Linked DNA regions of Homo sapiens. The protein of the gene in region 7 purifies or fractionates together with the protein of the main gene of each other region. This does not show direct contact. Each region holds a gene or a part of one and is shown on either strand. Other genes may lie near its edges.

What was found.
Region 1: the proteins of PDIA6 (region 7) and NUDT21 purify together in Homo sapiens (affinity purification with mass spectrometry, with the first as the bait; one large-scale study listed by BioGRID). This does not show direct contact.
Region 2: the proteins of PDIA6 (region 7) and VWA1 purify together in Homo sapiens (affinity purification with mass spectrometry; 3 studies listed by BioGRID and IntAct, with this or other methods). This does not show direct contact.
Region 3: the proteins of PDIA6 (region 7) and KLHL24 purify together in Homo sapiens (affinity purification with mass spectrometry; 3 studies listed by BioGRID and IntAct, with this or other methods). This does not show direct contact.
Region 4: the proteins of PDIA6 (region 7) and BTBD9 purify together in Homo sapiens (affinity purification with mass spectrometry; 3 studies listed by BioGRID and IntAct, with this or other methods). This does not show direct contact.
Region 5: the proteins of PDIA6 (region 7) and ISCA1 purify together in Homo sapiens (affinity purification with mass spectrometry; 2 studies listed by BioGRID and IntAct, with this or other methods). This does not show direct contact.
Region 6: the proteins of PDIA6 (region 7) and DIPK2A purify together in Homo sapiens (co-immunoprecipitation; one study listed by IntAct). This does not show direct contact.

Annotation. Positions count from the first base shown.
Region 1 is NC_000016.10:56,431,483-56,434,332, forward strand, and holds part of NUDT21 (cleavage and polyadenylation specificity factor subunit 5), read right to left. Parts: coding exon 2,849-2,850; intron 1,252-2,848; coding exon 1,230-1,251; 3' UTR 1-1,229. UniProt on the Homo sapiens protein: Component of the cleavage factor Im (CFIm) complex that functions as an activator of the pre-mRNA 3'-end cleavage and polyadenylation processing required for the maturation of pre-mRNA into functional mRNAs.
Region 2 is NC_000001.11:1,434,334-1,438,489, reverse strand, and holds the start of VWA1 (von Willebrand factor A domain-containing protein 1 isoform 1 precursor), read right to left. Parts: upstream 2,801-4,156; 5' UTR 2,742-2,800; coding exon 2,669-2,741; intron 1,564-2,668; coding exon 1,006-1,563; intron 1-1,005. Other genes in the region: uncharacterized protein LOC107985729, read right to left, coding at 3,340-3,954, 4,088-4,156. UniProt on the Homo sapiens protein: Promotes matrix assembly. Involved in the organization of skeletal muscles and in the formation of neuromuscular junctions.
Region 3 is NC_000003.12:183,682,821-183,685,019, reverse strand, and holds the end of KLHL24 (kelch-like protein 24), read right to left. Parts: 3' UTR 501-2,199; downstream 1-500. UniProt on the Homo sapiens protein: Necessary to maintain the balance between intermediate filament stability and degradation, a process that is essential for skin integrity.
Region 4 is NC_000006.12:38,573,930-38,577,429, forward strand, and holds part of BTBD9 (BTB/POZ domain-containing protein 9), read right to left. Parts: intron 1-3,500.
Region 5 is NC_000009.12:86,265,539-86,269,038, reverse strand, and holds part of ISCA1 (iron-sulfur cluster assembly 1 homolog, mitochondrial precursor), read left to right. Parts: intron 1-2,847; coding exon 2,848-2,996; 3' UTR 2,997-3,500. UniProt on the Homo sapiens protein: Involved in the maturation of mitochondrial 4Fe-4S proteins functioning late in the iron-sulfur cluster assembly pathway. Probably involved in the binding of an intermediate of Fe/S cluster assembly.
Region 6 is NC_000003.12:143,985,323-143,988,822, reverse strand, and holds part of DIPK2A (divergent protein kinase domain 2A isoform a precursor), read right to left. Parts: intron 3,281-3,500; coding exon 2,977-3,280; intron 1-2,976. UniProt on the Homo sapiens protein: May play a role in cardiomyocyte proliferation through paracrine signaling and activation of the PPI3K-AKT-CDK7 signaling cascade.
Region 7 is NC_000002.12:10,802,786-10,806,285, forward strand, and holds part of PDIA6 (protein disulfide-isomerase A6 isoform d precursor), read right to left. Parts: intron 1-3,500. UniProt on the Homo sapiens protein: May function as a chaperone that inhibits aggregation of misfolded proteins. Negatively regulates the unfolded protein response (UPR) through binding to UPR sensors such as ERN1, which in turn inactivates ERN1 signaling.

The DNA.
Region 1 (2,850 bases), on a different chromosome or scaffold from region 7:
CAATATTCAGGAAAATAGCCCTGTGACTGGCACCATACTAATCAAAAGTTCATTTCTATTAAAAACCCTTTTTTCCTTAAGTAGCTACATCTGGCAAGATTCCTTTTTACATTAAGCCTATAGTCAACAAGTCTGTAATAAGGCATACATGCTATACTTTGATCATTAAATAATGACACAACCAGCAAACTCCTTTGCTCTAATATTTTTTATTCCCCCAAATTTGATCCGAATTTATCAGTATTTTTTAAAGTTTTTAAAATTTCGTTTTTCTCTTAACCTGAGAAAACCTGTCCTCTGCCTTGCCCCCAGTTTTCGGTTGATTCACATTATTCCAAAAATATTTTTGAAGGCTCTGTCATTTGCTAAAACCAAATTTTCTTCTCTATGTACACAACTTCAAGTTAATTGAATATTTGTGCAATCTCAGAGTTCAAAACCTAATACATCCAATTTTAGAAATTTCCTTCACAGATCCCTATTTTTACCATGGCTTTAAGAATAAGACACATAATTTCGCAACAGCACAAATAATTAATACCCCCATTATGTGAAGAAAACTCTGAGCTCTAAATGAGTCTCTTCTTATACCAATTCCTATGACTACTGATCGAGCCAATTTTAATAGTTTCCTGTATGTTTAAGGTCTGTTGCTTGCAAACCAAGGCCTGGATGGTTATAAAATGTACTGGTCAGTGAATTATACTGGGAGTTCTCTGCAACACAATTCATTTAGGAGTTGCACCTTGGACTCACTCAGATAAATATAGTTTTCAGAAGTAATGGAAGCTCTTCATCACAAAAATCTAATACAATCTTGGAGTATGTGCCCAAGAATGGTATCAAAGCAAGGGTCCAATAAACTTGACTGACTTAAACCTGTCATTGTGTTGCAACATTCACCATCCTAAGGTGGGGGGAAAAATGATCCTCACCTATAAGAATTTTAGAAGTTTAATGAGAAATTAAAATAAAAAAAGTCCATTTTCTTTAATGTTGTACAAAAAAGTATGAGCAGAACCGAAAGTAAATAAACATTATCACATTTGTTTACACCACTATCTAGTTCTTCATATTAATTTTACTATTCAAACAATAGAAAGGTGGCAATTTAGGGATCGCAAAAGAGATAAAACCAAAAAAACTTTTCTACCACATTTATTCTACACTGTATATAGCTGTGCTCACAGAGACAAGCGGCTTCTTTTACTTCTCCACTGCGCAGGAATTCAGTTGTAAATAAAATTGAACCTGAATTTTAAAAAGAACAATACCTTTATTAAAGACAGTACATACTACTTTCCATATTAGATAAATAAATTTATCTGGATGTTTCTGCCCTCCCTTAGCATGTCTGGCATTTTCTTTTTTTCCCCTTCGAATGCCTTTTTACCACGTTTGGCATTTTCTACACCAATTTTCCCTCACTGGTCACATCTTACACACTAAAAACACTTGTTGAATACTTATAATAAAAAAAATTAAGACTATAAATTTGATTAATTATCCACTAATAAGTTCTTTAAGGCAGGAAAAGTTTCTACATGTCCTTATACTCTGACTACTCAGCACAGTTCCTGCACTTGACAAGTAGGTGTTTGAATAAATAATATGACTCTTTTCCCCCCATATGCATTTCAACTTGTAACCTATCAGGAGGCCAAAGTGGAGTGGCAAAAGATAAGGTTTGATTAGTGACGAAGTAGAAAGAGCAATTTCATACTCAATAAGCTTTCACAAAAGGCCAATTTCACTAACATTTATTAAGTATGTACCAGATTACTGGCACTGTTGTAAGCATTTTATATGCATTATTTCACTTGGTCCTCATAATCCTCTGAAGTAGAGACTACTATCCCCATTTACAGAAGAAGAAACAGTCAAATAGGTATAATAGTTTGTTCAAGGTCACACTGCCAGCAAGTACTGAGGTTGGGCTTCAAATCCAAAACACTGACTGCAGAATCTACTTTCATAACCACCATGTTATTCTGCAATTCCTATATATGGCTGGCTCTAATAGAGACCTCAACCAGTACAAGTCAACTTTTAAAAAACTGCATTTCTTATCACTCTAACTGCCTAAAGATTCAAACCCCACGTAAAAGTTCAGGACCTAATCCCACAAGCCTCAATTTGGGCCAAAATATAGTAAGTTTCAAAAAAGGAAAACGAATATATTACACCAAGATATTCGATTTGCCACCTTTTTTTTCTTTTTTTTAGATGGAGTCTCACTCTGTCGCCCAGGCTGGAGTGCAGTAGCGTGATCTCAGTTCATTGCAACCTCTGCCTCCCGGGTTCAAGCAATTCTCTGCCTCAGCCTCCCAAGTAGCTGGGATTAAAAGCGCTGGCCACCACGCCTCACTAATTTTTGTATTTTTAGTAGAGATGGGGTTTCACCATCTTGGCCAGACTGGTCTCGAACTCCTGACCTGGTGATACACCCCCGCCTCAGCCTCCCAAAGTGCTGGGATTACAGGCATGAGCCACTACATCCAGCCAATTTGCCACATTTTAATACAGACAACTCCGCTCATATTTACACACTGTTGACTGCTATTTAACCATCTCTTTTTTGAATAAAGACATCAACCTTAACTCTTGAGAATATCAGAATTAGGGAAGAGCAGTTGCACAAATACCAGAATGTCATGCCGAAACTTAAGAGTCTGGGGATGGTATTAGTCACAATTAATCTATGGCTTGCACATGATCTAAGAGTCTATCTACTTTCTTAGTTTCCTTAAAGACCAAAATTCATGAACTATACCTTCCCAAGTGGCTCAGAATATTTTAAATTTGACAGTTAATATGGATGAACCAAAAAATGTTCAACTTTCTGTACCT
Region 2 (4,156 bases), on a different chromosome or scaffold from region 7:
GCTGGGTTAAAGCTATCAGGATCTTCCTCCTGCAGTGCTGGGTGCCTGGGCCACTTTCTTCCCATCCCCCACCCTCAGACCCGGCCTCTTTCCCAGGAGCCCCCACCCTGCTGCCTGGCCCCTCGGCACTGCAGCCTCAGGCTTTTCCTTTGGCTGCTTAAGGCAGCCTTTCCTCCTGGTCCCCTCCAGGCGCAGCTGCACTGGGTGACCTGGGGCCACTAGGGGCCAGACGTCCCTGGGGAAACCTTGGGGAGGGCCGTCCACCCCTCTCCAACCCACAGTCCAACCCCTTCCGGCTCTGGGTGGATGATTAACCCACAGACGGAGACTTGGTGAGATCCCCAGGGTTGGCATTTTTCAGTGGCTGCAGCAGGCTGAGCCAGTGGCCGGTTCCTCATCTCCAGCCCCAGCTCCTTCAGGGCTTGGCTGGGGCAGGGAGGTCCAGAAAAAAAGCCAATGGGAGCTGCTCAGCTCCTGCCTCAGGCCTTCCCTGGTCCGGCCTCTCAGGAAACCCTCACAGTGGGCCTGCAGTCCGAACTAGTTCAAAGCCCTCGGCGGCTGTCCCCACCCAGGAGAGGTGCCCTGTGCTCTCTGGGGGGGCAGTCCCTGACCTTTCTGGCTCACCCCTCTCCAGGTATGGTGGGCATGCTCAGGAGCACATGCTGCCCATCTGCAGAGTCCCCAGACTTGGAAGCTTCTTCCTGGGCCTACACCCGGGCTCTGCACTCCCTGGGGCCTCGAGGTCTGGGCTGGACACATCAGCAGGGAGCTACACCTGGAGGTGGCTACTCAAGCCTGCCCCCGTCTCAGCAGGGTACACGGGTCGCCCAGTGAAGAGTGTGCATAGACAAGCTGCATCACTCAGCCCTGCACCCTAGGGGTACCACAGCCCCGGAGGCCCTGGCCGCTGCTCTGGGGACATGAGATCTTCCCAAAGTCTCAACCCAGCCTCTCCTTCTGCGGCTCCCAGCTAGGGCTCCCTGGGCCCTGCCTCCTCCCGCATACCGAGAATGGAGCCCCTCAGCTCTTGGACAATGATGTGCAGGTCATCCACGTCCACAAAGTGCAGGTGCTTCTCGGCAGGGGCTGAGGCAGCGGCTGACAGCTCCAGGAAGTTGCCTCGGCCGGTGCTGACAATGAACACGGTGACGCCCAGGTCCTTGAGCTCCTGCATGGGGGGGCCCACAGGGTCGCTGGAGCCGCCATCTGTCACCCACACCAGCACTTTGGGCACCCCTGGCCGGGCACCTGATGCTTCAGCAAACAGCTGTTCCTTGGCATAGACCAGCGCCAGGCCAGTGTGGGTGTCACCCATGCGCTGGGCAGAAGCACGCACCGCATCCTGGGCAGCCTCACCCGAGCTGTGCTGGCCGAAGGGGAACTCGGTGTATGGCCGACTGCCCACGTGCACCAGACTGGCACGCAGGGCCCCGGTGCCCAGGGGCAGTGGAGCCACCAGCTGCCCCACAAACTCCCGAACCCGGGAGAACTCGTAGTGAGAGACGCTGGCTGAGCTGTCCAGCAGGAACATCAGGTCCCCTCGGGGGGCTGATGCTGGTGGACCTGGGGGAAAGGAGGAATGCTCAGCCTCAGGTGTGGGCCCCCCAGACAGCCCCACAGCAAGGCAGGGTCCCCCAGGGCCCCAGCTTTCCTTAAGTGGATGCTTGCCTTCTCCCAAAGGTCCTAGGTTGGGGGAAAGAGGAACTCTAAGCAAGAGGCCTGTACTTTTGGGGGTTTCACTGCACACTGGCCATGGGATCTAGGGCTCTCTCTGGGCTTGTGTTATCCCATCTGTGAGAGGGCGACTCTCCGCTCCAAGCCCCCACACCTTCCCATTCCTCACAGACCCTGCAAGCAGGTGGAGCCAAGAGTCCTGGCCTAGGCCCCCAGGACAGGCCTGAGCCGTGGGGCTGTTCCCTCCAGGCATGGCTTTCAGAGGAGCAGCCTGAGGCTGGAGTTCAGCCACGCAGCTCAGCCTGCAGGTGAGGCACCCTGGGCATGCACACAGCAGCAGGGGAAGGTGTCGGAGGCACAGCAATGACCACGCCGGATGGCCTGGCTGGAGCCCAGACCCCGCTTACTAGATGGTGGCCCCTCCCCTGGCCTCCATCCTCCAGCCCACCTGGACTCACACAACAAGATATAACCCCCAGCAGCCTGAAAGCCGGAACAGCCCCTCGCAGGCTTCCCCCTTCCTCCGGGCACCTCCGGGGTGGAGGCTGATGCCCCCTACACCGCCCCTCCCCACCAAGCCAGGGCACCAGCGTGCCTCAATTCTAGTCCCGGCCTTGCGGTTTTCCCCAGTGCGGTGGGGCGACTCCAACTTCCCTACCATCCCTCCACTAAGGGCCCTCGCAAGGGTAGGGAAACTGAGGCAGGGGTGCCCCCTTGACAGACATCTCCCTCTTCCTGTCCAGGCCCGCGATCCCGCAGAGATGCGGGCCGGGACGGCCCCTATGCCCCGGCGCTCACGGACGGTGTCGCCTGGAGCACCTGGGCCGCCAGCCTCAGGTGAGCAGGACGCTCCGCCCGCGCCCCCGCCCGGCTCCCGCAGCCTCCCAGCCCGCCCGCCCGTCCGGAGCAGGGGACAGCGACGGCCTTGCGCGGGCAGCGGCGCAGAGCGGTCACCAGAAGCCCCAGCCCCGGCCCGGCCGCCCGCCGCACTCACCGCGCTCCGCGCCGCTCCGCGCCAGCGCCAGCCGCAAGCTCAGGGCCAGGCCGAGCGCCGTCCAGGGGAGCATCGCGCGCGAGGGACGGGGCGCGCTCGGCAACTCGCTCGCTCGCTCGCTCGCTCGGGGCTGCAGGGCGCGTCACCGCGCGGACCAGGCCGGCCCCGCCCCCGGGAGGCCCCTCCCCGAGCGGCCACACCCACGCCGAGGCCACGCCCACGCCCTCCGGCGCGAGCGGAGGGCCACGCGCACAGACCCCGGAGAGGCGCGCACGAGCGGACCCCGACACGCAGGGACACGCAGCACCAGCCGAGATACGACCGAGGCACGCACGCGCAGGCACGCACACACACACACTCCAGTCTCCCTCTCCCGGCCGAGGCTGTGCGGCCCACGCTCTCCACCCCTCTCCGACCCCCAGCCGCGGGAGCCGAGCAGGGAGGTACCAGGCTAGGCCCTCCCCATGCCCACCACTGCCGTGACTCTGGGTGCTGGGGTCCCAGCAGCCAGGCCCAAGAGAACCCCAGGGGCTGGCGGTGGCACCAAAAAAACACGTCCAGACCGTGGTTTCGCCTTGGCCTCCGCGCTGGAGGCGGATAGGTGTCTGGAGTAACAGGACATGTATCCCAGGGACTGACCAGCAGGGATGGGAAGGACCATGGGGTGGAACTTACAAGGACACAGTGGCTTGAAAGGGGACAGAAGACAGGAATTCGAGAGAGACTCGAAGCACCCACGCCACCTGGGCTTCTTGGAGGAAGAGGCATGGGAGTGGGAGATGGTTGGTTGAGGCCCTGTCCAGTGGGACCACACTGGGCCTGTTACCCATATACCCTACCCAGTGAGGGGCCCAGACTCCAGGACCCAGGACACACCCCCAGCAGGACTGGAGGGTCCCACTGGTGAGACAGGAGCTCTTGAGTCTTGGGGTCTTGGTGAGGCCCAGACGAGAGGTGGCTGGTTGCAGGGGGCGTCCTGAGGGACAGTGGCTCCCAGGGCAGATTTCCCCTGCTTGGGTGGGGCTGGGCCAGCAGTGTCCCCTGGACAGGAGAACCCTACCCCGGCCCTCCCTCGGAGTAGCCATGGCCCTCTTCCAGGGCCTCCTCAGCTCAGAGCTGGGAGGTGGGGGACGTGGGGGGGTGTCTGCCAGGATGTCTCCTCCTTCCCCACCCTCTCCTGGAGGATGCGCCGCGGGAGAACGGATGGGGCTCCACAGGCTTCCTTCCTCCCTTTCAGGCAGGTGAGACACCGCGGGGCCGTGCGGACGGCCAGCACTCGACTTTGCCTAAAAAAGGAAGCAGCAGGCTGAGGCTGAGGAGCTGGCGGCAGGAACAAGGGAGAGCTGTGTCCCCGCCGGCGCCCCCCACCCCCCCTGCCGGGGATCTTGGCAGTGGAGGTGCTGGCTGCGCTCCACAGACCTCAGACCTCGGCTGGGACCAGAAATGCCTGGTGCTTCCGCCTGGGCCCGGTGGGGGGACTTTGGGTCC
Region 3 (2,199 bases), on a different chromosome or scaffold from region 7:
CACGGTGAAACCCTGTCTCTACTAAAAATATAAAAAGAAAAATTAGCCGGGCGTGGTGGCATGCACCTGTAGTCCCAGGTACTCAGGAGGCTGAAGCACGAGAATCGCTTGAACCCAGGAGGCAGAGGTTGCAGTAAGCCAAGACTGCACCACTGCTCTCCAGCCTGGGTGACAGAGTGAGACTCCGTCTCAAAAAAAGAAAAAAAAAATTTTTTTTTTTGAATAGGGAATACTTTCGTGTGTTTCAGACTAAAAAATTGATTTTATATGTATTTATAATTACACACATATACGTATGCAGTAAAGTTTCATTTTTACTTGTCCTTCAGCCACCATTTCCTTTCCTCTTACACACTAATATTTTCAGTTTCTTATTTATCCTTCCAGTTATTTTATGGACATACCAGTAAATACACACATATATTAATATATCCAGTATTTTCCCCATCTCTTTTTTGCACAACCCCTTAAATATACTTAAAATAAAACAGAACAACAAATTTTTCGTAAACAAAATTTAATACAACCATATAGTCAAGTAATAATGGTTAAAAGACATTTTATTAGATACAACTTTTAAAAAATTAAACTATGCAAGAAGTATATTTAAACAAAACATGTAAGTAAGTATTCACGTGCTACAACTTAACTAAGAACAATTAAATACAAAGCATTCTTTCCACTATGAAGACTCTGGAGCCTCTAATTGAAAGCAAATGACCTTAGGTCTATACTAGTTGTAAAGCAGATTATACTTTTGTTCAACTCTAAATTTGTATTGTCTTAGAGCTCCAACAACTCTCAATAAAAATTTAAATAAAGAAACCTTGGGGGAGGGGTGATAGGGAAGGGGAGAGTAAGTGCTTTTTCAAAAAGGTAAATGAAAAAGCCTGAAGAGGGAAAAAATTGTACATAAGTATGGAACAAAAATAAGTATACTTTTTTGACATTCGATGTAGATACTGCAAATGAATTTACACGGGTTTAATCAATGTAAGATAGATATTTGTCTGAATATTTTAAAAAGCACCTAGGTATCAAAAAATAAAAACAAAAAATATAATGAAACTCCAAACATCCAACAATCTCCCTTAACATTCTCATTCTGCCAAGCAACCACACGTTGGTGCTTATTACACAATTTAAGAAGGGGAAGTTTATTTACTCTATAGGAAACAAATATGAACCTTATCTAAGGTAAGCTTCATTTAGATTGAAAAAAAAGTTGAAATAGCACTAGAGAACTTAAGGCACATAAACAAATTCAGGTGCAGTTATTTTGAAACCATTAAAACAAATTCTTTTCTTTGGAACAATATATAAAATAAGTTATGAATGTTGCTGTTTTTATCAGCACTAGGAAAATTTAATATCTAAGGCAATCACACAAATGTAAAATGTTCATATAAAACATTAAAAAATGTCTAAAGTGTCTCTGGAATTATTCATTCACACTCCTGGCTCAAATGGTTTCTGGTGCCTAGCATTAGATGTGACAATAATGATAGCTAGCTAGTCAAACCTACTGCCTTAAAGATCAACCAATTTGCTCCATTCTGGTTACTTGGCATGGTAAATTTATTTAACTAAAAAGAATAATGGGGTGAGGTGATGTAAACCTGGCTTTCAATAAGATGCACAACAAATTCTAATAAGGCCAAAACTCTGTTGAGGTTAACTGGTGTCTTGAGTTTACTAAAATAAAGGCAGTCCATAGGAAGCCTCAAAGAGACATTATCTTACCACTTGGCACCACAAAAACACCAAGCTCTCCTCTCTGAAAATACAGGCCGGGGGTGGTGGCTCACGCCTGTAATCCCAGCACTTTGGGAGGCCGAGGTGGGCGGATCACGTGGTCAGGAGTGATCCGTCTCTACTAAACCCCGTCTCTACTAAAAATACAAAAAAATTAGCCGGGTGTGGTGGCACGCACCTGTGGTCTCAGCTACTCGGGAGGCTGAGGCAGAATCCCTTGAACCCGGGAGGTGGAGGTTGCAGTCAGCTGAGATCGCGCCACTGCACTCCAGCCTGGGCGACAGAGCAAGACCCCGTTCTCCCCCCTTCCCCAAAAAAAAAAAAAAACGAAAAAAATACAGTTTGAAGTAGATGTCGTCTTTTCCACATATAAATCTCAAGACATAAAAGGCACACACAATTCAACTCCTCTCTTTTCATATATGGGTTCTCACAGCAATTTAA
Region 4 (3,500 bases), on a different chromosome or scaffold from region 7:
TGAAGGTTACAGATTATGGGTAAAGCGGAAATTGCCTTTCCTGAGAAAGAAAAGGCTGATAAGACATAACATGGTTCTCAAGGCATATGAAAAACTAAACATAAATTGATGAGTCACTTTTCTCCATCTCCAGTTAAAGGCTGAAGAGGATAACTGGTCTAAGCTTTTGGCTACATAGAGCAATCCCCACTTAACTCACGAACATTCCTAAAATGAGTCCAGAAAGGCAAAGCGAACCATTGCTCTGAGTTCATTATCATGGTTGGAATGTTCACACTGGCTTTGAAGCCTGATATTATCTGCCATTAGATAACATCGACTATCTTGGTGAGGTGAATGCTGACTGAATTACATTTGACAAGATAGATGAGTGGCAAATCTTATGTTATATATATTTTACCAACCAAAATATATGAAAACTCCTAGACATATACAAAGATAGGCCGGTTGTTAAGATAAAACTGTTTAAGGCATGTTTTGGACTGTATGTATGGGTTGGCGATACAAAAAAGTACCAAAAAGACTAGGGTCTTTAGAGGTTAGAGTGAGAGCCACCTCACAGTGAGAGCTACCGTGACCAACGAGGATGGCAGGGATGACTCTCTCTGAAGGTCAACCACCATTCAGGAGTTTCTGAAATTAGGAAAAATAATAAAAATGACTGCCATTTATTGAGTCCCTCCTTTCTGCCAGAACTGTGCTCTGTACATGTAAATGTGCTGTATCATCTAACTCTCACATCAAACCCCATGAAGAGGTGTTGGTATTCCTATTCTTTATGGATGCAGATACTAGGGCTCAGAGAGGCACAATCGTATTACAACACAAATATGAGGTGAAACAAAGATTTGAGAAGAGCTCTACCTAACTCCACAGCCCATTGTTTTAAACAAGAATTTGAGAAGAGTTCGACCTAACTCCACAGCCCACTGTTTTAAACAAGAATTTGAGAAGAGCTCTACCTAACTCCACAGCCCATTGTTTTTCTACTACACAGTTCTGATTTATATGCAGTTTAGCCTAAACTCAGAGAGAGGACGGGGTAATCTCAGATTTCTCATACATAAGGTATCATTTTTGTAAATGTATTAGATGTAATCTTTCATCAATACATGACACATTCTTCAGGAATAACCTCCAAATTCAGTTTCCTGAAGAAAAAACAAAGTAACCTTTGCAAACAGTTCAGAACCATTTACCATTACAGAGAATTTTCCAGCACTCATACATGTATTAATGAATACATTGATAAAAAGTCTCAAGGAATATATGTACATATTAATGTTCCCATCAATCTCTCTTCATTACATAGTCATTGCCTTGACACCATGAAACCTGTGCTAACATTTATAGAGTACCTACTGCATACAAGGTCACAGTCTGAGCACTGTGCAAGAATAATAAAAGATTAGAATCCATACTGCCTGCCTCCAAGAGCTTATAATTTTAGTATCAGAGGCAAGATAAACACGCAAAGGACACTAAAGAACAAAGCTGACATACAAACGTGCAAATTAACTAACATAATGCAAACTGAACACTTACGTGCTAAGGAAATAAACAATTTATTTGCCCAGTGAAGTTCTTGGAAGAAGTGCAGTTAGAACATTGTTTAGGTAGACAATGAATAATTGTGAAGATAAGAAACACCAAGACATCCTCAGTTAATCTACAGAGACATATTCTTAGGTTCATTTTTAAATACTATCAAAATTATAACCTAGTAAAAAAGACAGTTTACTAAGGAAAGTAGTAATATAATAAAGTGGCTATAATTTTTAAAAAATTCTTATTAACATGGATATCAAGATTCTTTCCTTTTCTTGTTATCATTATCACTAACATCACTGTTGCTCATTTTTTTTCAACCAGAATTGGGAGCTGGCTATACCAAGACAAAAACTGCCTTCATGAATACAGCCAGTCTCTAAACACGTAACAGCTCTACCAACAAAGTCAAGGCCAGACAGGAAAGACAAAATAAGGAGAGTATAATAATGCTCACTAATATATAAAGGTAAAGTATATTTTCTAAAAGCCAGAGATCATGATCAAAGGCACGTTTCCATACATACAACAGGAGCTTTCAGGTGGGTAAAGCACACAGGCTGTCATGGCTGGTATTATTATATTCATAATGATTTGTTCTGGGAGTCATGTTCCTGTTGTTTCAAATTAAATGCAAACACACAGTCCTTCAGTCCATATCAGACGCTTTGTTATGCTGCCTGTGTTTTAATCAGATACAACAGTAATAACCTGAGTCAATGCAGACTCAATCTCCTCCTCTATGTGGGGGTCCCTCTGTCACTCTGGAAGTATCCCTAGGCAGCTCTGAGATATGGAATCTTCACTCAATTTCTTGTCCCTCTTATTTTAATCCATTCAAAACTCCTCTGATAAAAGAGCAACCGCTAGACCTGAGACACTTTAGTCTGTCTTTGGGGAAATGAAATTGATTTTCTTCATTTTCACACAAGAGGATCCCTGGGTAACAATATTGTGTCCGGTCATACCAATAAAAAAAATGTAGGCAACGTTCTTTACTGTACCAGAGGCTGAACGGTTTTGTGAAGTTCCTTAGTGGAGGTAAAAATTCAGCCTTTTGCTGTTAGACCATAAGTTTCACAAGTATAAGAGTAACTTCTGACCAAGAGACTAAGTGCTGTGGTGCCTTCCCATCTGCTCCCAATCAGCCACAGTGGGAGATCAGATGGGTCATGGGTGAGGGGCCAGCTCCACATTCTCCATGGTGTACACTCACCATATCCCTTCCCTTTTCTTCCTGAGCAAACAAACTAATCACTTTCTACCTTTAATCTTTTGACTTTAAGGTAAAGAATATCTAAAGGCAATTTCCAGTGAGAAAACACAGCAGAAAAAAGCAACAAAATTTTGGGGGCCTTTAACCACCTAAACAAATTCACTAATTTGTATAGGCTTTACAAAATTTCAGAAATTTTAAATGATGGATTATACCTAAAGGGAGAATATGAAATATTAAAACAGTAGCTTTTTGATACTTTTAAAAGACAACCATATCGAGGGCTGCGATACATAACAAAAATAAAAGCAGAGGTGCTCTGGCTGAAGAGAAGCTCTGAGCCTAGAGCCCCACTAGCTAAGCCTCATTTGCCCCAAATGCAACCCCACTTGAAACACCTGTTCTGTCAAACCCCATTTGTTAACCACTAACCTAAAGGAAAAAACAGATAACCAGAACATGTACAATGGCATTCAAAGATGTCCTCTGGCCCTGGCCATTCCCAGGGAAGACTCCAGAAATATTTCTCATGGCTTTCATAAGAAGAATGCACCCCCTAACAATAATTCTGCTTTCAATGTATCACAATGAATATTACCATTCACTGTATAGCACGGAGTTTAAAAAGCATTCCACTTCTCAAATGTTCCCTGTCCCTTCTCATTCATTCACATGTGTACTACATACATATTATACAAGACATGTTGTATAAATAGTTCCACAACACACTGTAAAT
Region 5 (3,500 bases), on a different chromosome or scaffold from region 7:
GTGGATCATGAGGTCAGGAGTTCACGACCAGCCTGGCCAACATGGTGAAACCCCATCTCTACTAAAAATACAAAAAATTAACTGGGTGTGGTGGCACACGCCTGTAGTCCCAGCTACTGGGAGGCTGAGGCAGGAGAATCGCTTGAACCCCAGGAGGCGGAGGTTGCAGTGAGCCGAGACCATGCCATTGCACTCCAACCTGGGTGAAAAAGTGAGACTCTGTCTCAAAAAAGAAAAAAAGACATCATAGTGCACTGTGTTCTTACCTGTGAATAGCCACTGCCCTTAAGCCTGGGCAACATAGCGAGACCTCCATCTCTTAAAAAAAAGAAAAAAAAAGGAAGAAGAAGAAGAAAATAAAACATGGTACACCTGTTTGTGGCAGTTACCATGCATGGAACTTGCAGGACTGGAAGTTGTCCGCGTGAGTCAGTGAGTGAGTAGGGAGTGATAAGTGAATGTGAAAGCCTAGGACGTTCCTCCGTAGTACTATAGACCTTATAAACCTTGTACACTTAGTCTTCAATAATAAATTAACCTTAGTTTACTGAAACTTTTTTACTTTGTAAGCTTTGGGGTTTTTTTTTTTTTTTTTGACTCTTTTGTGATAACATTAGCTTTGAAACACATTGTACAAATAACAAAAATTTTTTACGTTCTTATTCTATAAGCTTTTCTCTATTTTTAATTTTTTCTTTATAAACATTTTAATTAAAAACTAAGACAAAAACACACGTATTAACTTAGGCCTCCACAGGGTCAGGTTCATCAATATCCCTGTCTTCCACCACCTCCCCTCATCCCATTGGAAGGCCGTCAGGGGCAGTAACACTCATGGAGTTGTCATCTTCTGTGATAATGATGCCTTCTTCTGGATACCTCCTGAAGAACCTGCCTCAGGCTGTTTCACGGTTAACTTTTTTTTTTATAAGTAGAAGTACACTCTAAAATTTTAAACAATAAAAAGTATAGTAAATACATAAAGCAGTAACATAACCATTTATTATCATTATCAAGTATTATGTAGTGTACATAATTGAACATGCTTAGACTTTTATATGACTGGCAGTATAGGTTTGTTTACACCAGCATCACCACAAACACCTGAGTAATGGGTTGTCTTGTGATATTATGGTGGCTACAGCATTGCTAGGCAATGGGAATTTTCAGCTCCATTATAATCCTTTTTTTTTTTTTTTTTTTAATTTGAGATGGTCTCGCTCTCTCACCCAGGCTGGAGTGCAGTGGTGTGATCTCGGCTTGCTGCAACCTCCACCTCCCTGGTTCAAGCGATCCTCCCACCTCAGCCTCCCAAGTAGCTGGGATTATAGGCGCCCACCACCATGCCTGGTTCATTTTTGTATTTTTAGTGGAGCTGTATTATCAACTCATGTTTTTGAGGAATCCTGTATTTCCAATTTTTATTCAAAGCTATTTATTATAATTTAATTTATAATTAAAATTAATTATATTTGCTGCTGCCCCCTTCTTCCACCCTATAATCTGTTAAAACCTATCTAAAATAAATAATTTATCTTGTCATTGGAAGTATGCACTTAGCTTGCAGTTCTTACCTACATGGGAGAATGAGGCCTAGATTCCTAAGTGTGCTTTCTTATTAAACTAAAGTTATAACTATCAATAAAGACCTTTTAAAAATGTATTATTTTAAAAATTATAACACATTATAAACCTTAAGATTTTCATCTTAAAGAAGAGGTGACTTAATTATATATTGTTTATATTTAGCTAATGGCTCAATTTCTTGTAAGGAAGAAAGTTTTTTTGTTGTTTCGTTGTTTTGTTTGTTTGTTGAGACAGAGTCTTGCTCTCTTACCCAGGCTGGAGTGCAGTGGCACAATCATGGTTCACTGTAGCCTCTGTCTCCCGGGCTCAAGCAGTCCTCCCACCTCAGCCTCCCGAGTAGCTGGGACTACAGGTGCCCACCACTGTGCCCGGCTAATTTTTGTATTTTTAGTGGAGCCAGGGTTTTGCCCTGTTTCCCAGACTAGAAAGCTTTCTTAAATTGATTGTATTTGTTGGCTGGGCACTGTGGCTCACACCTGTAATCCCAGCACTTTGGGAGGCCGAGGTGGGAGGATCACTTGAGCCCAGGAATGCAAGACCAGCTTGGGCCACGTGGTGAAACCCTGACTCTAAAAAAATTAGTTGGTCCTGGTGGTATGTGCCTGTAATCCTGTGGGAGGATCGCTTGAGCCTGGGAGGTGGAGCTTGTGGTGAGCCATGATCATACCACTGCACTCCAGCCGGGGTGACAGAGTGAGACTCTGTCCAAAAAAAAAAAGATTGTATTTACAAAGATGCTGACCTCTACCTGTGTAATTACTAGGGAATAGTACCTGTTTTCCGTCCTGTAACCAGAAAAGACTATTGTTGTACTGATTGATGTTATTAAAATAGCCCCATTGTATCACAGTCCTTTGTACATCTTTAAGCTTGAATCCGTGTATCTAGTGTATTGCAGAATTTTCATAAATTTTTTTTTATTTCATAAAACTCATCGAGAATATACATTTTCTTCATGTTGCAAACTGGAAAAATGAGTGAAGTATAGTGAAAGGTAAATTCTAATTTTGCATAAAATTGTCATGGAATTTACTTGTATAAAATTCTCCCCTAATGTGATTGTGACATAAATTCATGTGTGGGAAAGAAGGGGCAGACAGGAAACTGAATGCTTAATTCCTTAAGGAAATAATTTAAAATGTTCAAGGCTTCTTGTTTGACTTTCATTGATAGTCACTATTTCAAGTTCACTTGTGCTTTGAATCAGCAAGTTCCATAAGGCTGCAGGCTTTCCATGACACATGTTTTCTTTTCTCCAAGGAGTCAGAGTATTCATCGAAAAGAAAGCACAGCTAACACTTTTAGGAACAGAAATGGACTATGTTGAAGACAAATTATCCAGTGAGTTTGTGTTCAATAACCCAAACATCAAAGGGACTTGTGGCTGTGGAGAAAGCTTTAATATTTGAAATCTCAGGACTCTTCTGGCCGTAGGTTCCAGGAAAGCTCGTGGAAGCTTTGGGGCTCACTGCAGAAATCATGTGACTGTCACGTGCTGGAAAATAAAGTGATACATCTTGAAAATGAATCCAGTGTGTTGGATTCCAGAAGAAATGATATTTATATTCTCTATAGGGGACAGAAAATGAGAAGCCATCACTCTTTTTGGATCATTTAGGTCTCTTGTATCCTTTGTTTTAGAACCAGTTTCATTAAAGTTGCCTTCCTGGGCACCTGTTTATCCATTTCCTGAACTGTGTGCACTCCTTAGATCGCTATTGATGGCTTGATCATCCCTCAGCATTTCTCCCAACCAGATCGGTGACTCCTAAAATCTGAGACAGGACATCGTGACTGCTGGTAGTAATATGGTGGTGCATTGTTTTTTCCACCCAAACTTAACATAGCCTTTTTATACATTTTTATGAAAAATTTCATTGTCAGCTGCCTCACTGCATACTCTTTAATAGTAC
Region 6 (3,500 bases), on a different chromosome or scaffold from region 7:
ATAATTAAGTATATGGGTAAAGTTTAAGGTTCTAATTGGATGACAAGGTATGTACAATTGCCATAATAGTGTCAATATTTTATATATAAACAAAATAAATATAAAGGAGCTATAAGGTATTAGGTGGGCATGTCATATGTACAACTAGAACTAGACTTGAAACTTATGATTTTGAGGTAAGAGGGATATTAGGCAAATTGAGAACACATAAGCACACATGTACTTGAAGGAGTCAAGGCTTGAAAAACAAATAGCTAGCTGTATAGGGAAGAAGGAAGAGACATTTTTGGAAGAGGAAACTGGGAATGCCCAGAAGTGGGCCGATTCATTCAGGAAAACAAGAGGCCATTGTAGCAGAAGCACCAAGGGCAATAGATGGAGGGGTATTAAAAATGAAGCACTCGAAAAACACATATATACACAGGCTGGGCGGGGTGGCTCACATCTGTAATCCCAGCACTTTGAGAGGCCAAGGTGGGAGGACTGCTTAAGCCCACAAGTTTGAGACCAGTCTAGGCAACACAGCGAGATCCCACCCTCTACAAAAAATTTAAAAATTAGCCAGGCATGGTGGTATGTGCCTGTAGTCCCAGCTACTTGGGATGCTGAGGCAGGAAGATCACTTGAGCCAGGGAGGTCAAGGCTGCAGTGAGCCGTGATCACACCACTGCACTCCAGCCTGGGTGACAGAGACCCTGTCTCAAAAAAGAAAAAAAAAAAAGGATCAGAAGAGGGCCAAGTCACACAGATTACAGATTATGCCCTGGCTTTAAGGTGTTTGGATTTTACTTCCAGAACAATGGGAAGTCATTAGAACCATTTAAGCAAAGGAGTAGTAAGTTAATGTTTTTTGAAGGTTACTATTCCAAAAGAAGGAAGGTTACTATTCCAAAGGAGGAAACAACTTCGAGAAGTTGATACTAGTCACAATCACTTCACAAATTTGCCAATTAGGTGGTTGCTAATGGCAAGGCAGAGGTCTACGTCAGGTTTTAATGGACTAAGGAATGAATAGAGGCTGAGGAAGCAGAAAGGCAATAAATACTTTTAAAAACAGTGGACAAGCAAGGAGAAGCAGAAGAGAGTCTTATATATACTTTTTATAGGAAGGCAAGAGAAGTTGGATATTAAAGGAAGGAGGTGGGACACTGAAGAAGATAACTGATGTAACAAGTTCTCAAAGAAGAATCTATCTGTTGCTGTTTTAATGAGGTTTAGATGATAAAGGACACTGGGGGAGTTGCCACAGCAAAATCTCAATTTCCCTGTGAAGAAATAAAATAAAGGTCATTTACTAGAAAGTGGAAAGAAAAGAGAGTAAATGAACAGACAGAGACTTTTGCAAAGTGACTATTTAGAGGACCCATGAGACATTTGAAAAGAAATGACCACAGTTAAAGCAGCACTAGAGCAATGCTCACTGTATGAAATGGAAGAATACAGAAGCTATATGGCTGGATTCATCTAAGGTCAGGAATTAGTAATAATTATTCCAGGAATGTCTGCATAAAATGAATTATAAAAAATTATTGTTATAAACACTGAAATAATTTTTTTAAGCTTAGGAAAATTGCACAACTCTATGAATATACTAAAAACCACCTGCTTGTGTACACTTTAAAAAAGAAAGAATAGTATACGCTGCTACAATATTCACAGATGTAGGAAGAGGTAAATAGAGAGTAGAATACTCCAGCAGGGTGTTCACTTCCTGTAGGAGGATCTACATGGCAAGTCAAGAAATAATCAGAAAAGTGGTCTGGTAAGTATAAAATCTGAAAAAGGGAGTGGGAAAAATCAAGTATTTAATAGGATCATGCCAAGATCATGCAAAAAGTAAATGTCAACCTAATATATGGCTGTCACATAAACTTTTCCCCAGGTGCCGTAAATTTTCAGCCTTTGTTTGTCAAAAGATACTCATATTACTTTTATCAGGGGGAAAGAGGGGATTAAAAAATATAAAACCCTCACCATGGAGCAACAACCCTTTGGTTTTGCTAACTGAATTGGTTCTAGACCTACAGGCTTTGTTCTTGATGCTTTACAACTTCTATGGCATTTAATTTTCTTTAATTTTCTTTTTTTTTTTTTTTTTTTGAGACGGAGTCTCGCTGTTGCCCAGGCTGGAGTGCAGTGGCGCAATCTCGGCTCACTGCAGGCTCCGCCCCCTGGGGTTCACGCCATTCTCCTGCCTCAGCCTCCCGAGTAGCTAGGACTACAGGCGCCCGCCACCTCGCCCGGCTAATTTTTTGTATTTTTAGTAGAGACGGGGTTTCACCGTGTTAGCCAGGATGGTCTCGATCTCCTGACCTCGTGATCCGCCCGCCTCGGCCTCCCAAAGTGCTGGGATTACAGGCGTAAGCCACCGCACCCGGCCGGCATTTAATTTTCAAAACACTTCAGACACTACTCATCTATCCCATGAAGAACTCAAAAGTAAATGGAGAGCAAAGTTTTGGGTGAGATGTAATAATCAGAATGTCAAACCAAACTCAGAGCTGCAGTGCCAGGGATCATCAAAATGGTTAAAAATAAAGTACAAACCATATTTCAAGAACCCATACAACCATTCTGTTTTTCACTTTCAGTACAGAATTCAATATATTACATGAATATAATTATATTCAACAGTTTATTATAAATAGGCTTTGTTTTACACAATTTCCCCCAACTTTAGACTAATGTAAGTGTTCTGAGTATGTCTAAGGTAGGCAAGACTAAGCTATGATGTCCCGTAGGTTAGATATATTTCAAATAACAATATTTTCAACTGACACCGGGTTTATCAAGATGTAACCCCCAGTAAGTCAAAGAGTATCTGTATTTGTTTATTGACAGTGGTCATATAAAGCAAAGAAAGACGCTTAAAGTTGCCATCTAAGGAGGAAATTCAAGGCTCATTTCATACAAGTATAAACATTATTTTGACATAGGAAAAAATGAGTAGAAAAAAATCTAAAATTATATACTTACTTTGTCTAATTAATCTTTTGTCAGCAACCAAAACATTTTCAGCATCCACAATGATTACCTTCCCATCTCTAGGACCAACTGCAAAATTGTCAAAGCTGACGTCCAGGAGGTAGAGTGCAAATTCAAAGTCATTGTTTGTAAGCTGTTCTGCTATTTCCATTAATTGCCAAGCGAGGTCAACTCGTTTTTCCCATGGCGCATTAAAGTAACTCCACAGTTCTTCTCCAACATAATTTACAGCCACCATTCTTCCACAAGCTCCAAGATACTTTGCAAATGGCCAACCTTCATCAGACGGAAAACTCTACAAAAGAATTATCTTAATATTACAAGAGATTCTGATGAAAATATCCTAGGTCTATCCTCAGATCCTTTCAGTAGAGATTGCTACTAGGAATGACTTTGGATTTTCTTATTACATTCAACAGTTTATTAGAGATTAACTTCATTTTTTCCTAACTCATACCAGTACTATGGACCTGAAAAAAATTTAAATAGAGAACTTTACATTATAAAGCTAAAAT
Region 7 (3,500 bases):
AGTTGGAGCCCCTGGAATTTCACTCCCATTGCTGCAACGCTGAGCAAGAAAGGAACGGACGGTCCCCACTCCCACTCCTTGGGCTGCACTGGAAAAAGGCTGAAGCATTATTCTTAGTGGCTTTCATGTATCAACGTCTTTGTTCTTTACAACCGCTCCATGAGGCAGTACTACTGTCATTTTATGGCATGGACGCTGAAAAATTGGGAGGTCACTTCTGCCTGTGTAACCCTGGGCAATCACGTAGTAATCATTCCTCATGTTATTCAGTTGCAATTATTAGCACATTATCTTTATTCAAATATATTTTTGAAGGGAAAATAATTATTGTCTCTTCCACTAGATTGTGACTCTTTCAAGGGCAATGGTAATTTATTTATTTATATTTTGAGACGGAGTTTCGCTCTTGTTGCCCAGGCTGGAGTGCAATGGCATGATCTTGGCTCACCACAACCTCCGCCTCCCAGGTTCAAGCAATTCTCCTGCTTCAGCCTCCCAAGTAGCTGGGATTACAGGCATGTGCCATCACGCCCGGCTAATTTTGTATTTTTAATAGAGACAGGGTTTCTCCATGTTGGTCAGGCTGGTCTCGAACTCCTGACCTCAGGTGATCCGCCTGCCTCGGCCTCCCAAAGTGCTGGGATTACAGGCATGAGCCATGGCGCCCAGCCAATGTTTATTTTTATAAATAGTTTTATTTCTCTTAATACTATCCATAACACATTATCAGAAACACTGTTCGTGTGAACAACCTTATAAAGACAGGATACAGTGTCGACTGTATTGCTGACCACACAGTTCTGCCACATTGTGGATCAAGAGCATTTTCATTAGCAACTCTGGAAACTTACATGCAATTTACAACAATAATTTAGGAAAACAAATTCTGAACTTACTAGTATCTTAAGAACCCAAAAGTTCTCTGAAATGGCATTACTATCAAAATTTCACCTTTTAAATTTACATATACAGTCACATCCACAGGGTCAAGGAGAGAACACATATATGAGGGTGGTCCTGTGGATTATAATGGAGCTTAAAAAATCCTATCACCTTGTGATGCCTTGATAACTCTGACCCTGAGTAGACCTAGGCTAATGTGCGTGTTTGTGTCCTAGTTTTTGTGTTTTTTTTTTTTTTTGAGACAGAGTCTTGCTCTGTCACCCAGGCTGGAGTGCATTGGCGCTATCTCGGCTCACTGCAAGCTCTGCCACCCGGGTTCACGCCATTCTCCTGCCTCAACCTCCTGAGTAACCGGGACTACAGGCGCCTGCCACCACGCCTGGCTAATTTTTTGTATTTTTAGTAGAGATGGGGTTTCACTGTGTTAGCCAGGATGGTCTCGATCTCCTGACCTTGTGATCCGCCCGCCTCGGCCTCCCAAAGTGCTGGGATTACAGGCGTGAGCCACCGTGCCCGGCCCTGTGTCCTAGTTTTTGACAAAAAAGTTTAAAAAACTAAAACAAACTTTAAAAACGAAAAAAACCTACGTTTTCTTCTAGGGTTTTTATGGTTTTAGGTCTAACGTTTAAGTCTTTAATCCATCTTGAATTGATTTTTGTATAAGGTGTAAGGAAGGGATCCAGTTTCAGCTTTCTACATATGGCTAGGCAGTTTTCCCAGCACCATTTATTAAATAGGGATTCCTTTCCCCATTGCTTGTTTTTCTCAGGTTTGTCAAAGATCAGATAGTTGTAGACAGGCAGCGTTATTTCTGAGGGCTCTGTTCTGTTCCATTGATCTATATCTCTGTTTTGGTACCAGTACCATGCTGTTTTGGTTACTGTAGCCTTGTAGTATAGTTTGAAGTCAGGTAGTGTGATGCCTCCAGCTTTGTTCTTTTGGCTTAGGATTGCTTTGGCGATGCGGGCTCTTTTTTGGTTCCATATGAACTTTAAAGTAGTTTTTTCCAATTCTGTGAAGAAAGTCATTGGTAGCTTTATGGGGATGGCATTGAATCTGTAAATTACCTTGGGCAGTATGGCCATTTTCACGATATTGATTCTTCCTACCCATGAGCATGGAATGTTCTTCCATTTGTTTGTATCCTCTTTTATTTCCTTGAGCAGTGGTTTGTAGTTCTCCTTGAAGAGGTCCTTCACATCCCTTGTAAGTTGGATTCCTAGGTATTTTATTCTCTTTGAAGCAATTGTGAATGGGAGTTCACTCATGATTTGGCTCTCTGTCTGTTGTTGGTGTATAAGAATGCTTGTGATTTTTGTACATTGATTTTGTATCCAAAAGCAATGGCAACAAAAGACAAAATTGACAAATGGATCTAATTAAACTAAAGAGCTTCTGCACAGCAAAAGAAACTACCATCAGAGTGAACAGGCAACCTACAAAATGGGAGAAAATTTTCGCAACCTACTCATCTGACAAAGGGCTAATATCCAGAATCTACAATGAACTCAGACAAATTTACAAGAAAAAAACAAACAACCCCATCAAAAAGTGGGCGAAGGACATGAACAGACACTTCTCAAAAGAAGACATTTATGCAGCCAAAAAACACATGAAAAAATGCTCATCATCACTGGCCATCAGAGAAATGCAAATCAAAACCACAATGAGATACCATCTCACACCAGTTAGAATGGCAATCATTAAAAAGTCAGGAAACAACAGGTGCTGGAGAGGATGTGGAGAAATAGGAACACTTTTACACTGTTGGTGGGACTGTAAACTAGTTCAACCATTGTGGAAGTCAGTGTGGCGATTCCTCAGGGATCTAGAACTGGAAATACCATTTGACCCAACCATCCCATTACTGGGTATATACCCAAAGGACTATAAATCATGCTGCTATAAAGACACATGCACATGTATGTTTATTGCGGCATTATTCACAATAGCAAAGACTTGGAACCAACCCAAATGTCCAACAATGATAGACTGGATTAAGAAAATGTGGCACATATACAGCATGGAATACTATGCAGCCATAAAAAATGATGAGTTCATGTCCTTTGTAGGGACATGGATGAAATTGGAAATCATCATTCTCAGTAAACTATTGCAAGAACAAAAAACCAAACACCGCATATTCTCACTCATAGGTGGGAATTGAACAATGAGATCACATGGACACAGGAAGGGGAATATCACACTCTGGGGACTGTTGTGGGGTGGGGGGAGGGGGGAGGGATAGCATCGGGAGATATACCTAATGCTAGATGAGGAGTTAGTGGGTGCAGTGCACCAGCATGGCACATGTACCCTAAAACTTAAAGTATAATTAAAAAAAAAAAAAAAAAAACGAAAAAAACCTTACAGAATACGGATATAAAAGAAAATACTGGCCAGGTGCTATGGGTCATGCTTGTAATCCCAGCACTTTGGGAGGCCAAGGCAGGCAGATCGCTTGAGCTCAGGAATTCAAGACCAGCCTGGGCAACATAGTGAGACCCCCTCTCTAAAAAAAGTACAAAAATTAGCCAGGCATGGTGGTGCATGCCTATAGTCCTAGCTACTCGAGAGGCTGAGGTGGGAGGATCACT